Linked DNA regions of Homo sapiens: region 2 is linked to region 1. Evidence: fine-mapped expression QTL. Tissue or cell type: blood mononuclear cells. Region 1 holds a variant in brackets; the other region holds the start of a gene. All regions are shown on one strand. Distances are from middle to middle.

Region 1 (7,740 bases):
TTCTTCTTGGTCAAATATGACTGACTTTTGTAAATATTCTATCGGTACGAAAACATGTTTTCTTGTAGTTCGAGGGATGTTAGAGCTTACACATAGATACCACATCATTTATTAATTGTATTATTTAATTCCTATGCCATCCCACATTTGCTATATACCAAATTTATCCAATTCTGAAAAAAAAGTTTAAGTTTTCCAATATAATTTTATTTAATCAAATTCTTCTTTTATTTCTTACAGGTTTTGCTTCATATATCTAGCTATTATGTTGTTTTGTATCTGCACTTACACATTCTCCATCTGTAATTATCTAGATATCTTTTGTCTATATATGTCTTTATATTGATTTATTTGTTCTACATTTTGTTGCTCACTACTGAAGCAGTGTTGTTTGTCTGGGGTAATACCCCAGGTTCATTGCCTCACACCAAGGAAATCAAGGAAACGGACTAAGAAGGAGTGAGTTTAAGAGTGAAAGTTTAATAGGCAAAAGAGAAAAGCTCCCTTGTGCAGAGGGAGGGGGTTCCAAACGGATCTCCCGGAACCTGGCAAGATGCGGCTGGTTTTACGGATGGGCTTGAGGAGGTGGTGTCTGATTTGCAGAGGGTGCAGAGAATTGGTTGGACCAGGTGTGTCATTTGTATAGCATCTGAAGAGGCTGGCCACTGCACCCTAATCTTTTATTATGCAAAGGAATTTTCTACCTGGCTGGCACCATGTTCCCTGTTTCTTTACTGCACACATGGTGACAAAGAAAATGGAAGATGGAGCTTCCATGTTGAACATGCCTGGCCCCAGATAGCCTTTTCCTATTGGCACAGCTGCCGGCATTCACCTGCACAAGCTTCCAGCTTGCTTATCTATGTCTGCAGCTCGATTTTACTGGCTGCTGTTTGTTAGAAAAGAAATGGTTTTGGGGCTGTTTTTTGTTAAAAGTGAAGCCTCACCGAGGACTCTCTTACCCTCACTAACTGCCTAAATAATTTCTTTTCAGCTCCTATATCTCTACCATTTCTTCCCTTCTTTATCATCTTGTAGTTTCTCTTATGGTTAATCTATCATCTGGCTAGAGTCACTTCTTAAGTATTTTCTTAGGGTGGGAAAATGTAGGCATTAGTCTTTGACTTCATACATACCTACAAATAATTTCTTCCTATCACTCTGACAACTAAATGATTCTTTGGCTGGTCAAGAAATTCTTGAGTTGGAGTCCTTGCATTTCAGAAGTCTGCAGATATTCCACTAACTTCTAGCTGCTGCTGATGCACAAGAAGTCTGATTCTGTTTGCATTATAATTAATAAGGCAATTTATTTTTTCTGAGTGGAAAAGTTTGTAAAGATTTCTTTTTTTCCTTAGAGTTCCAGAATCTTTCCAGAATATTGCTAAGGGTGTGTGTGTGTGTGTGAATTTATCAATCAAGCCTGGACTTGTTGAATCCATTTAATCTGTAGATTCAGGTATTTCTTGGTCCAAAAATTTTTCTCCTTTCTTATGTTGCTTTTCCTTCTATGTGTCTTTTTCCCCATCTGGATCTCCCAATATAATATGCTAAACTTCTTGGATCTATCCTCAAAATGTCACATATCCTTTCTCTCATGATTTTAATTGCTTTTGTGAACCCAGAAAATCTGAAACAGGTCTCAATTAATTTAGAAAGTTTATTTTGCCAAGGTTGAGGATGCGTCATGACACAGCTTCAGGAAGTCCTGATGACATGTGCCCACAGTGGTCAGGGCAAAGCTTGGCTTTATACATTTGGGGAGACATGAGACATTAATCAATGTATGTAAGAAGTACATTGGTTCAGTCTGGAAAGGCAGGACAACTTGAACTAAAGGCAGGAAGCAGGGAGGGAGCTTCCAGGTCACAGATAGGTGATACACAAATGGTTACATTTTTTTGAGTTTCTGATTAGCCTTTCCAAAGGAGGGTAAGTCAGATATGTATCTATGTCGGTGAGCAGAGGAGTGACTTTGAATAAAACGGGAGGCATGTTTGCCCTAAGCAGTTTCCAGCTTGAGTTTTCCTTAGTGATTCTGGGGGCCTAAGATATTTTCCTTTTATACTTTATATCTTTCCTCCTTGTTCTAAGCTATTTTCCCCATTTGATCATCTAGCCCACTAATTTGGGTCTCAACAGTGATCATCTCCTTTCACTCATGTAAGGAATTTGAAGTTGCAAAATCTTTTATTTCTTTTTTTTTTCCTTTAGATATTAATATATTGTTTTTTGCTTTGTTGACTCAGTGGGGCTCATGATTGGTTGTGGAGTATCCTGAGAAGCAGGAGTCATAGTAAGGGAGGAGAACACCCCTCTTATTGTCTTATGCCCAATTTCTGCCTCCAAAGAAAAAAGAATTAAAAACTGAAGGGCAGAAATGAAATCCACAGGCAGGCAGCCCAGCAACGTGCCTTGGGCCTAGTAGTTAACAATCAACTCCTGACTTAACTGCTTGTGTCCCAGACATTGTATGGAAAAGCATCGTGAAAATCCCTGTCCTGTTCTGTTCCATTCTGATTACCGGTGCATGCAGCCCCCAGTCAGGTACCCCCTGCTTGCTCAATCGATCATGACCCTCTCACTCGACCTCCTTAGAGTTGTAAGCCCTTAAAAGGGACAGGAATTGCTCACTCGGGGAGCTCGGTTTTTTTGAGACATAAGTCTGCTGATGCTCCTGGCCAATAAAGCCCTTTCCTTCCTCAACTCGGTGTCTGAGGGGTTTTGTCTGTGGCTTGTCCTGCTACATTTCTTGGTTCCCTGATCTGGAAGCAAGGTGATAAGCGGATGGTCGAGGCAGCCCCTTAGGCGGCTTAGGCCTGCCCAGTGGAGCATCCCTGTGGGAGACTCTGGCCAGCTTT[G/A]GCGATGCGAATCCTGAGAGCGCTCCCCGGTAGGCAATTGCCCCAGTGGAACGCCTCCAGAGCACTGCACGGTAGGCCCCCGCGGAGGATTAATGCAGCGGCTGAACACCGGGAAGGAATTGGCGCTTGGAGTCCGGACATCTGGAACACGGTAAGACCGGTCTTCGAACTTGCCCACTCCATCTGAGTGGAAGTGTGGCCTGATCACCCATGGCGTGCCTTTTTGGCACCTTGGTTTTGGTTTTGATTTTGACTAGATTTGCACTGTTTTGGTTTAGATTTCAGTATTGACTTTTGGTTTTGAACTGTTTTGGCTTTGATTTCGGTTCTGACTTGGCTCAAATTGCTTGATGAATAAGTAACTCCTTATCCATACTTTGGTTTTAGTGTGAATTGCTTGGTGAGTGAGTGACTTTTTGCCCCTTTTTCCCTTCCCTCTTTGTGGTAAGAGTGTTGTTTTGTCTCCTGAGGAAAATGAGTAAAACACAAAGTAAGCCTACCTTGTTAGGAACTATGTTAAAGAATTTCAAGAAAGGATTCAATGGGGTTAATTTTGCCACATATCACCTTGTGAGGTTTATTATAGGAGGGTGTAGGTAGTTTGTTTATGCTTCCCACGACCTCCCACTGTGCGGTCCAGATGGTTTGTAATTGGGGTTTGCTTACTGCAGCAAGGTCTGATAAGTGAAGTCTGCTGGCTTCACCGTGGTGCCTAGACAAGGGCTTAGAAATGTAAAGAGACTTGGGGGAAGTGTGGGCAGCACCAAGAAGCTTTCTTGGGGGAGTCTGTCCCTAACAACTCCTGTGTGCCTTGACGTTTATAGTGGTGGGAAGAACTGTGGATTGGGAGAAAGTGAGAGCAGCAAGATTTTAGAGCCAGACCAAGGTACAAAAATAACATAATGGGTAGTGCACACGTCTTAGTGTCACTGTGCTTCTCTGATGACATAAACAATTTAAAAGTTATCTGCACATCTAATATGGCTAGCACAAATCACAAGAACCTTAGAAAATACTTCCTTTGGCTGGGTGTGGTGGCTCATGCCTGTAATCCCAGCACTTTGGGAGGCCAAGGCGGGTGGATCACCTGAGGTCAGGAGTTCGAGACCAGCTTGACCAACATGGAGAAAACTTGTCTCTACTAAAAATACAAAATTAGCCAGGCTTGGCAGCACATGCCTGTAATCCCAGCTACTTGGGAGGCTGAGGCAGGAGAATCACTTGAACCCAGGAGGTGGAGGTTGCAGTGAGCTGAGATTGCACCATTGCACTCCAGCCTGGGCAACAAGAGCAAAACTCTTGTTTCAAACGTCTCAAAAAAAAGAAAGAAAGAAAGAAAAGAAAGAAAATGCTTCCTTTAGTGACCATTGTTAAGCTTCAGAATTCCTAAAGAAGAAAAATCTTCTGGGAGTTATTTAAACATAGGATATGTTTTTACCCTAATGGATTAATTGTCCTTTTGCAAAAAGTGGTGTGATGATGACTTCTCAAGTTCTTGCTGCTAATCCTTTGATTCTATGTTTTCTTAGAACTAGAAAGAAATTCCTGGCTCTCTCTCTAAGATGGCCAACTACACGCAGCCAGGAGGAACATCTCCCCCCAAGGGACTAGGACATCCGAAGACTGGCAGACCTTGTCTGACCAGCAGAGTGCTCCAGCAGAGTGGCCCCTATGGACACACACCAGCCTGCCTGTGCCCTCCCTCCACTGCAGCCTCCCCCATGCCACTTTGACTGCATGCACTTGCCCACAGCCACCCCCTGCATCACTGTGCCAGTGTATGTGTATGAAGGCAGACTTTGCCTTACCTTCCCTGCCAGTATGTGTGGGTGTGTGCACCCTGCCATGTCACTGCTGCCAGGGTGACTGCACCCTGCTCCCCTCCCCCGTCACAATGCCATTGTTGTCAGATGGTGGTGAGCATGGAGCTTGCCAGTCCTACCCCTGCAAGTGCCCTGCCTCTGTGCCAACACTGCCACTGGCACATAACTAGTCATGGAGAATAGTGAACCCACCCTTGCTCTGACCAGCCACTGCTGTGGGTGTGAATGTGCACAGAGACCTCACACAGTCCTGCACCCTCCAGTGCCCCAACCCTGTACTAATACCACCACCAGAGGAACATGCACACAGCCCCATGAAGGCTGCCACCCTAGTACCCACTAGTACCCTGCTGTAGCTGATGAGCATGCAGTATGCATCCCACCATGCTGCTGCTGCTGCTGCAGCTGGCACAGGCAAATTAGGACAGATCACACTGTCACCCTGCTATGATGTGCTTTGGATGGCATCACCCATTAGAGTATTGTGACCAGTAGTCTGGGAACACCTTGGCCCCTCCAGCACAATAGGTTCATAACCTCGAGGAGCCAGAGAACAAAGTTGGGGCTCAATACCAGTCTCCCAGAGTTAGAACATGCAGTCCAGGAGTCCTGAGCTGAAGCTTGGCCCCCTAAAATCTTCCAGAAATGAAGTCAGTCACCTGAACCCAACACTACTATAATCAGGTCCCCAAGGTCACCAAATAGGATAAAGACAAAAAAGACAGCAACTTCAAAGATGGAAAGAATAAAAGCCCACAAATATAAGAAAAAACCAGCACCATAACTCTGACAACTCAAAAAGCCAGAGTGCCTTCATTCCTCCAAACAACTGTACTTGTTCTCCAGCAAGGGTTCTTACCTGGCTGAGATGGCTGAAATGACAGAAATAGAATTCAGAATATGGATAGGAATGATCATTGAGGTTCAGGAGAATGTTGAAACCCAATCTAAGGAAGCTAAGAATCACAATTAAATGATACAGAGCTGGCAGACAAAGTACCCAGTATAGAAAGAATATAACCAACCTGAAAGAACTGAAAAACACTCTACAAGAACTTCATAATGCAATTGTAATTAATAGCACAATAAACCAAGCTAAGGAAAGAATCTCAGAGCTTAAAGACTGACATTCTGAAGACAGACAAGAATAAAGAAAAAATATTGAAAAGGAATAAACAAAACCTCCAAGAAATGAGGGATTATGCAAAGAGACCAAATCTATGACTCACTGATGTCCCTGAAAGAGAGACTGGTACCAATTTGGAGAATGGTACCAATTTGGAACATATATTTCAGGATATCATCCAAGAGAATTTCCCCAACCTAGCTAGAGAGGCCAACATTCAAATTCAGGAAATGCAAAGAAACACAGTAAGATACTTCACAAGAAGATCATCCCCTAGACACGTAATCATCAGATTCTCCAAGGTCGAAATGAAAGAAAAAAATTTAAAGGCAACTAGAGAGAAAGGCCAGGTCACCTACAAAGGGAAGCCCATCCAACTAACAGCAGACCTCTTGGCAGAGACCCTATAAGCCAGAAGAGATTGGGGCCTATATTCAACATTCTTAGAGAAAATAAATTCCAACTAAGAATTTCTTGTCTGCCCAAACTAAACTTCATAAGCAAAGGAGAAATAAGAAATTGCAAATGCTGAGGGAATTTGTTACCACCAGACCTCCCTCAAAAGAGCTCCTGAAAGAGGCACTAAATATGGAAAGACCATTACAAGCTACTATAAAAACACTCTTAAGTACACAGACCAGTGACACTATAAAGCAACCACACAAAGAAGTCAGCATAATAAACAGGTAATGACATGAAGACAGGATCAAATCCACACATATCAATACTAACTTTGAATGTAAATCGACTAAATGCTCCAAGTTAAAGAGACAGAGTGGCAAGCTGGATAAAGAAGCAAGACACAATAGTATGCTGTCGTCAAGAAACCCATATTATATGCAATGACACCCATAGGCTCAAAATTAAGGGATGGAGAAAAATTTACCAAGCAAACAAGAACAAAAATAAAAAAAAATAGGAATTGTAATCCTAACTTCATACAAAACATACTTTAAACCAACAAAGATCAAAAAAGACAAAGAGGACATTCCATAATGGTAAAGGGTTCAATTCAACAAGAAGACCTAGCTCTCCTGAATATATATGCACCCAACACAGGAGCACCCAGATTCATAGAGCAAGTTCCTAGAGACCTTCAAAGAAACTTAGACCCCCACACAATAATAGGGGGAGGCTTCAATGCCCCATTAACAGTATTAGACAGATCATTGAAGCAGAAAATGAACAAAGATAATCAGGACCTGAACTCAACACTGGACCAAATGGACCTCATGGACATCTACAGAACTGTCCATACAAAAACAACAGAAAATACATTCTTCTCATCAACACACATTCTATATCAACCACACACTTGGACATAAAACAATTCTCACCAAATGCAAAAACCCCAAAATTACACCAACCACTCTCTCAGACCACAATGCAATAAAAATAGAACTCAAGACTAACAAAATTGCTCAAAACCATACGATTACTTTGAAATCAAACAACATGCTCCTGAATGACTTTTGGTAAACAATTAAATTAAGGCAGAAATCAAGAAGTTCTTTGAAACTAATGAGAACAAAAAAACAACATACCAGAATCTCTGGGACACAGCTAAGGCAGTATTAAGAGGGAAATTTATAGCACTAAATGCCCACATCAAAAAGTTAGAAAGATGGCTGGGTGCAGTGGCTCATACTTGTAATCCCAGCATTTTGGGAGGCTAAGACAGCAGATCACTTGAGGTCATGAGTTTGAGACCAGCCTGGCCAACATGGTGAAACTGTCTCTACTAAAAATACAAAAATTAGCCAGGCGTGGTGGTGCATGCCTGTGATCCCAGTTACGCAGGAGGCTGAGGCAGGAGAATTGCTTGAACCCTGGAAACAGAGGTTCTAGTGAGCTGAGATCACACCACTGTATTCCAGCCTATCATAACTAAATAACTAGAGAAGCAAGAGAAAACCAACCCCAAGCTTAG
Region 2 (7,740 bases), 36 kb after region 1:
AGAGAAGATGGTGTTCTTGGACAGGTAGTTTAAGAGACTAAACCTCCACCTCTACATTTTTGAAGCTTTAATGCATCATATTAGTAGTGAATAGTTAGCAGTGTTTGAAGGCTGAACCACATAACTCTCACTTGTCACTATCTCGCCTCAAGTAAATCACTGATAATAAATCTAAGTTTCCTCATCTGTAAATAGAAGGGGATGAATCGGGTCACTGCCAAGGCTTTTTCTAGCTCAGAGTATATTTCTACACAACCCTTTTAACCTACAATCAGAGTTTATATGTGGAGCATAGCCTAAACCTTTACCGATTCTTAGCAGTAACGAGAAATAAGGCACGCAAGTGAAAAATGAAAACAGTGACGTTAAAGATATCATACATTATTGGTGTCAAAGACACAATGAACAATAAACACAGATAGCACGGTTGTTAGCCCAGAAAACTGAGTCAGAAGATCAGTCAACTATGTGAATGACTTTGACAAATCCTCCTGATCACAAATCCAACAGTACAGAAGTCAAGTTCTAGGCTGGGTGCAGTGCCTCACGCCTGTAATCCCAACACTTTGGGAGGCAGAGGTGGGTGGATCACTTGAGGTCAGAAGTTTGAGACCAGCCTGGCCTGGCCAACATGGTGAAACTTTGTCTCTACTAAAAGTACAAAAATTAGCTGGCGTGATGGCACGCTCCTGTGGTCGCAGATACTTGGGAGGCTGAGGCAAGAGCATCACTTGAACCCAGGAGGCGGAGATTGCAGTGAGCCCAGATCATGCCACTGCACTCCAGCCTGGGCAACAGAGTGAAACTCCATCTCAAAAAAACAGAAAACAAAAAACAAAAAACAAAAACAAGCAAAAAACCATGACCCTCCAACCCCCCAACAAAGATTCAGGTTCTAGTACTCTGCCACTGTGCAGAACTCAAGGGTTTGGAGTCACAGACCACAGAGGTCAAATACAGTTCCAATGCTTACTAGCCTTGTAATCTTATGACTTAATTTCTCTGAGCTTCAGTTTCTGCCTCTGAAAAATGGGAGCACATCATCTTATGGCATCATTGTGAGTATTAAAAAGCATAGTTAGCACCTATGACAGGATCTACTGCATTGTAAGTATTAAATAAATGGGATTTTTGCCTACTTTTCTCCCCATGTGATGGAAATAATACTTTCCCTGGGTTCCTGTTAGTATATTAAGAAAATTCCAAGGCTGGAATTATGCAACATTAAAATTAGAAGGAACCAAGGGCTGTCAATTTTACCTCTAAATCTTTTCTCGAAATCTTCCATTTCTTAGCATTTCTCCTAGTATCAAGCTGGTATAGGCTACCATCATCTCTCATCCTATTACAATGACCTCCTTCAAACCAGCCCTCAAAATCTCTATCTCTTCACCCTCTCCTCACTCCATTCTTGCATAGCAACAAGACACATGCTTAAAACTCTCTCATGTGCACTTAGAATAAAATCCAAACTTTATCATAGCCTTCAAGACCTGACACGGGCTGACTTGCCCAAATTTATATTTGCCACTTTCCCTCTTGCTCACTTCCCAGTACAATGTCCTTCTTTCAGAATTTTAGTAGTTACCCTCCTTGCCTCTGGGCTTTCCCATGTGCCTCTGTCATTTTGTCTCAAGGCATTCTGTAGGTCTTCATAGAACTCATAACCACTGTAATTAAATAATGAGGTTCATAGTTAGTTGTTTAATGTCTGTCTCCTGGATCATGTTCACCATTGTATCCCCAATACTTGGGACAGTGCCTGACACAGGGCAGGTATTCAATAAATATCTATTGAAGAGTAAATGAAGAGACATCTTGCCCAAATGCTTCATTTGTAGATTAGAAAGCTACAGTTAGGATACGCTACAGTTAGGATACAAGTGACTTGCCTAAGGCTGGAGCACCAAGAGTTCTTTTTTCCCAGGCCAATATTCTTTTTTTTTTTTTTTTTTTTTTTGAGACAGAGTCTCGCTCTGTCGCCCAGGCCGGACTGCGGACTGCAGTGGCGCAATCTCGGCTCACTGCAAGCTCCGCTTCCCGGGTTCACGCCATTCTCCTGCCTCAGCCTCCCGAGTAGCTGGGACTACAGGCGCCCGCCACCGCGCCCGGCTAATTTTTTGTATTTTTAGTAGAGACGGGGTTTCACCTTGTTAGCCAGGATGGTCTCGATCTCCTGACCTCATGATCCACCTGCCTTGGCCTCCCAAAGTGCTGGGATTACAGGCGTGAGCCACCGCGCCCGGCCTTCCCAGGCCAATATTCTTTTGCTCCACTTAACTCTGAGGTCCCTTCTACCTTTAACGTTCTGTTATCTCTGAAAATACAATAAAGTGTGAAAATATCTTACAGATGGAAGATACCTCTTTTTCGTTTTGTACAATACATTTGGCTCTATTTCCCACTCCCCCACCGGGCACTTTTATTATCCTGTTTCTCTGCTTCCTCCTAAAGTTAAATTTAACATATTTACTGCATAATCTAGTAGGTGAAGCAGATAATTCCTGTAAACAAGGAATCATATCCAATAAGGTAAATGCAAAGGCAAGATGAATGAAGCACAGAGAAAGTACAGCATAGGCTGTACTTTTTTGTGCAGGGAGTAGTAACGAAAAAAATTGTTGTGCAGGGAGTAGTAAAAAAGGAATCACAGAGATGATTAACTTGAGATAGCTTTTGAAGGATGATAGGCGTTTGCCAGGTGAAGGAAACATTCCAAGCAAGGGAAACAGCACGTGTACAGAGGCACTGCATCCATTCAACACATACTGAGTGCCTACCAGCAACTCCAAGCTGCTTTCTCTACGTGGGAAAATGCATAGGTCACTGAACTCCACAAATGGTAGTTGGTACTGCCACAGAGAAGAGGAAGCTGCAAATGTAGTGGAAAGCAAGGGTTAGATCAGAGCACCTTGTACGCCACGCTCAAAGGCACGTACTTTGATCTATAGAGATGGAAATCCACGGAAGACTTTTGAGCAAAGAAGTGACAACCTCTGATTTACATCTGTTTTGAGTTTCCACTCAGTTTGGATCACGCCCCAGATTCAATAAGGAAGACAGAAAAAATGCCTCGAGAATCTGCATAGGCCAAACACAACACACCAAACAGTCACACATGCGAACATACTAGGTATTTACAACAACTTGCTGAGATGGTTGGGCAGAACTCACTACCGCACAGTTAAAGAGAAAGCTTGGAAATAGTTACGTGACAAACGTTGAGGTGCCCAGGCCCGGCGCCCCAGGGTTCCCGGACACCGCCCGAGGCCTCCCCACCCTCCGGCACACACCCGCTCACCTCTGCAAGTTCTCGATCTCAGCCGGGATGCTCTGCAGTTGGTTGCCGCCCAGGCTCAGGGTCTGCAGCGCGCGCAGCTCTAAGAGCGAGGCAGGCACCTCCTGGAAACAGTTGCCGCTGAGGTTGAGCACCTGGAGGCTGCGGCAGAGCGGCGACTGGGCCAGGCCCTTGGGCAGCGCACTGGGCCCGCCGAGCCGGTTGTTCTTGGCCAGCAGCGTGCGCAGGCCGCGCAGAGCGAGCAGCTCCGGCCCGAGCGCGGTCAACGCGTTGCCGCTCACGTCCAGCAGCTGGAGGTGCGGGAAGCCGCTGCCCAGCGCCCGTGGCAGCGACACCAGACGGTTGTGAGGCAGCAGCAGCCGCAGCAGCGCCTCCCGCGCCCCGCGCCGCTCCTCCCCCCGCGCCTCCAGCTCAGACTCCAGCGTCTCGGTGGACACGCTGAGGCGGGACCAGTTCAGTTCGGCCTCCCCGGCCGTGACCACCGCTGCTCCGGCCTCCTCCATCCTGGCCACCGCACGGCGCGTGGCGCCGGATTCCCCAGAGCGCCGCGCGCGGTCCAGAGGCCGGGAGCTCTGCGGCGCCCCGGAACCTGAACCGAGGGCTGAGTCGGAAGTGGCGCGGGCGGGCGCAAACCCTGCGCGCCTTGGCCGAGTCACGCGACGCGAGTCCTGGGGTGCGCGCGCCGCTCCGGGGCGGGCTCTGCCTCACGAGGCGCGGGGCGCGGAGTGGCAAGAGCGCAGCATGGGCTGCGCAGAACTGAGGCAGACACCCAGAGGCTGCCAAATTGTCATCTGAGCCGGACCGGGTTTCGGCGGCCGCGCTTTATAGTCGCTGGAGCCTGGTGACCTATTCCAGGGCTACAAGACTGCCTCGGCAAACAGCCCAAGGATGTTCGGTTATCTCGCCTTGAGGGTTCGCGCGTCACGTGCCCCCCCCGTCCCCCGCTTGTTTTTCAGTTTAAAAGTGGGGCCCGTGTCTGCAGGACTCTGTGAGCACACAGTAATTTAGTGGTGATTTAGCTCCATGACAGAAAACCGCAGGAATTTAAAGTCCGAGGATTAACAAAGCCGACCTCGAAATGTGAACGCAGCTGGACTAGACCTCAGAACCCCCGGACCCTTACTGGAGGTTCCGCTGTTAAATAGCCTAGGGCAGGGATTTGATTTCAGTTGCCCCATGCATAAAATATGGGTAACACCCGCACTACTTGCCCCACAGAATTATTTTTTTCTTTTTTAAGGCAGAAATGTGTATCAAGTAAGGACGTTTTGCCCGTTTTAATTGTAGAAGCACATACGTGGCTTTTGGTGTAAGTTGTGTCTAGGAGTGAATTTGGGAGATATGGAGGCGGTTGCATGATTTGAGATAGCTCAAATTAATGAGTTAGTTTAAAAACTCAAAGCATAGAGTTTGTACTGCAGGTCAAAACTACAGTTTGGGAAAATCCTGATCTGGTACTAATTTAGTAATTCTAATTAACGTATTTTTCATCCTTGTCCCAAACTCAATCTTTTCTGAAATTACATTTTATGATTTTGAAAAGTAATGAATAGAAATGAGAAAAAATGCTTAGCTTTTTTTTTTTTTAACAAAGCTTATACATAAGAAAGTTAAGTGGTCGTGTATAATCAACGACATTAAATTGCTTTCCTCCTTAAAAAAGGAAAGTCGTTTTTTTCTTGCCAGTCATTTATTTGTATGAGAAACTATGCCTTTACTCTGCAGTCAAACTTTAATTTCTGATTGAGTGGTAGTCCTAGAAGGACGTACTTTGTATGTTTAAGCTAATGGTGGAATGCTTTTTAAAACTGATGAGTCATCTGTTTTGAAAGAGTCCTTTTAAGAACAGACCTTATTTTGGGTCAAGCCAGCATTCTAACAGTAGTCCTAATATCTGAAAATAACAAATATTTAAAATAATAGTTGTTTTTGCTTTAAAATATTTATCTTGGATTTTAAAAAGTGATAGGAACGTAATGTAAAATGAGAAAAAGAAAGGATTCAAACATAATTCAGAAATAAGAGTTGGCCAGGTGCCATGGCTCATGCCTGTAATCCCAGTGCTTTGGCCCAGGCCAGCAGATCGCTGAGGTCAGGAGTTCCAGACCAGCCTGGCCAACATGGGGAAACCCCGTCTCTACAAAAAATACAAAAATTAGCCGGGCCTAGTGGCGCTCGCCTGTGGTGCCAACTACTACACAGGCTGCTGGGAGGATTGTTTCAGCCTAAGAGGTAGAGGTTGCAGAGAGCCATGATTGTGCCACTGCCCTGCACTTTTTTTTTTTTTTGTCTCAAGAAAAATAAAATAAGAGGTAAGATTACAAATCAGTGGAATTAAAGGGAAAAAGATAACCTCAATAATAGCAAATGAGGCTTCCTAGTAGAAAGTTTGGAAAAAAATACTTAGTATGGGAACTCCACATTATATAGAATAAAGGAAAGGAAGTAGAAAAAAAGTGGTGTAGGTAAAGAAATGAGTAACCTGACAAATTTTGAAAACCTACTGCTTGCAACGCTGTACTAGGAGCTTTTAATTTAATAAAGTCTCCAACTATTTGGTTGTTGAATTTAGGATAAATGTAACCAGACCATTGAGCAGCTAAGATAACTGAGAAACTGCTTTCTAAAAGTTGAAAACTGTGTTTCTGCCTCATTGAAGCTATTGGCAAGGAAACTGTAAATTTCAGTGTAAAATGCACATCTCATGTCCAATTAGAGTAGGTTCCTACTTACATAGAATGACTATCTTTATTCATTTTTGGATTCTCCCTCACACCACCACCATCCCCCATTGCCTAGTATGATTTCTTGCAAATAATTTGGATTGACTGAGTTGGATATATCTCTTAGTTAGTGGACTTATTTTTTGAATAATTAGAGTAAATTGTAAAGTCCTTGAAAAGAACTGTCTTATTATTATATACCCATCCCCTAACAGTGCCTGCTCCACAGTAGGTACAGGTACTCTATATCTTTTGAAACACTGAATATATTTGTAAATATTAAGTTTTAGTTGAAAAGGAATTTTTATTTATCAAACACCTTTTATCACAAACCTTAAAAAATGTAATTCTACTTATCGCCACATTTATAAATAAGAATGTTTATCCGCATTTTAGAAATGAGGGAACTCAAGCTCAAAAATGATGAGTAAAGTCTGCTATCACAGAGAGTGAAAGGCTAATTAGAAATTCAGCCTTAGGGCTGTGTGGCTCCAAAGTCTATGTTCTTTCCACTACACTACACTGCTCTCTTGAGCTTAGTTTTTTTTGTTTTTTGTTTTAAATGATTCAAAGCAATAAGATCTTCCAAATAGTGTCAGTATTACAAGTGGCATCTATCCATTGATGGTACTTTGAAATATTGTGATTGTTGGAATTATACGGCACTTGTCTTAAGGATTGGGGGTTTTGTGGGCTTCATACACAAAACTGGAGCAGAGGCACCTGAACCAAACATAATTTGGGGTGCTGTCCTTGTATCATATGACGTCACTTTAGAACCTATGTTGATCGGAGCCATAGTGGACATCTGACCAAGGTAAGCCCATCAACAGACTGCCTGGTGGCCTGTCACTTATAAGGCACTGCCCAAACAGAAGCAGAGATTATTTTTTTTTCTCACTCGCCCAGGAATTTAATCCAAAGAACCCAGAGGGAAATTCCAGTTGGTGGCAGATCAGAAAGAAATTACAGTTGAATCAGAAAGAAGCAGACATGGGGAATGTCGCTAATTTTTTGTCAATTGTGAAACATAAGTGTGAAGATTCATAAAATATTGCTGCTGAAATCTAGGACTGCCTCATATCCAGAGTAACGCACCAGGTGCAGCTTCACTGAGGCCAACTTGTTAACAGCTGGATTAAATGTGAGCATCTTCTTACTGCCCAGTATAATAACCCTTCTCTATCTTAGCTAACGTGGATGTATCTCTTTTCACTGCAGCCAGATGGGTTTAAATGAAGCAGCATCCCCCAATCTTACAGTGGCCCTTGAAACCCTCCAGTCAGCCTGGAGAATACTGAAAACTTTCTGGGAGGTAAAAGAGCTGTGGTGGCTTGTGAACCCCCACAGTGATGGGGTTCATCTGTGGCTAGCTGAAAGAGATGCCTGAGAGGGGAGTGGAGGCACTGGAGAAGGTAAAGGACAGAGGAGACAACAGAATATGTTACATAGGGAAAGGAACATGGGTTACAGGGAACTGGGAAAGTACATGGCCTGTTTGTCCACTTATCAGAACTTCACCATTATGTCAGGCTTGGCCAATTGAATACATTTCAAGATAAGTCTCTTGACTGGAATAGTATTGGACATTTAGGAGACCAAATGAATTCTCCTCCTCCTTCAGCTACCCTTTCTAGGCTTCCTGAAGGCAGGAACTGCATCTGTTTACCATGGTATCCCCCAAGACATCGTAGGCAGCAAATAGTGAGTGAACGCAAT

What was found. PIP is the estimated chance that this variant, and not a neighbour inherited with it, causes the effect.
Region 2: LRRC58 starts here. The variant in region 1 is fine-mapped to the expression of LRRC58 in blood mononuclear cells (TOPMed, PIP above 0.99).

The regions. Positions count from the first base shown.
Region 1 is chr3:120,309,168-120,316,907 of GRCh38, forward strand. No RefSeq gene overlaps it. Among named protein-coding and RNA genes, the nearest start is that of GPR156, 28 kb to the left of the region's middle. RefSeq lists an enhancer at 4,182-4,785. The variant G/A (reference allele first, on the strand shown) is at 2,862.
Region 2 is chr3:120,345,443-120,353,182 of GRCh38, forward strand. It overlaps LRRC58 (leucine rich repeat containing 58), which reads right to left and starts at 3,912. Exons shown (of 4, transcript NM_001099678.2): 1 at 3,302-3,912. The coding sequence starts at 3,801. It also overlaps the pseudogene BTNL12P. RefSeq lists an enhancer at 3,178-3,227 and a silencer at 3,578-3,907.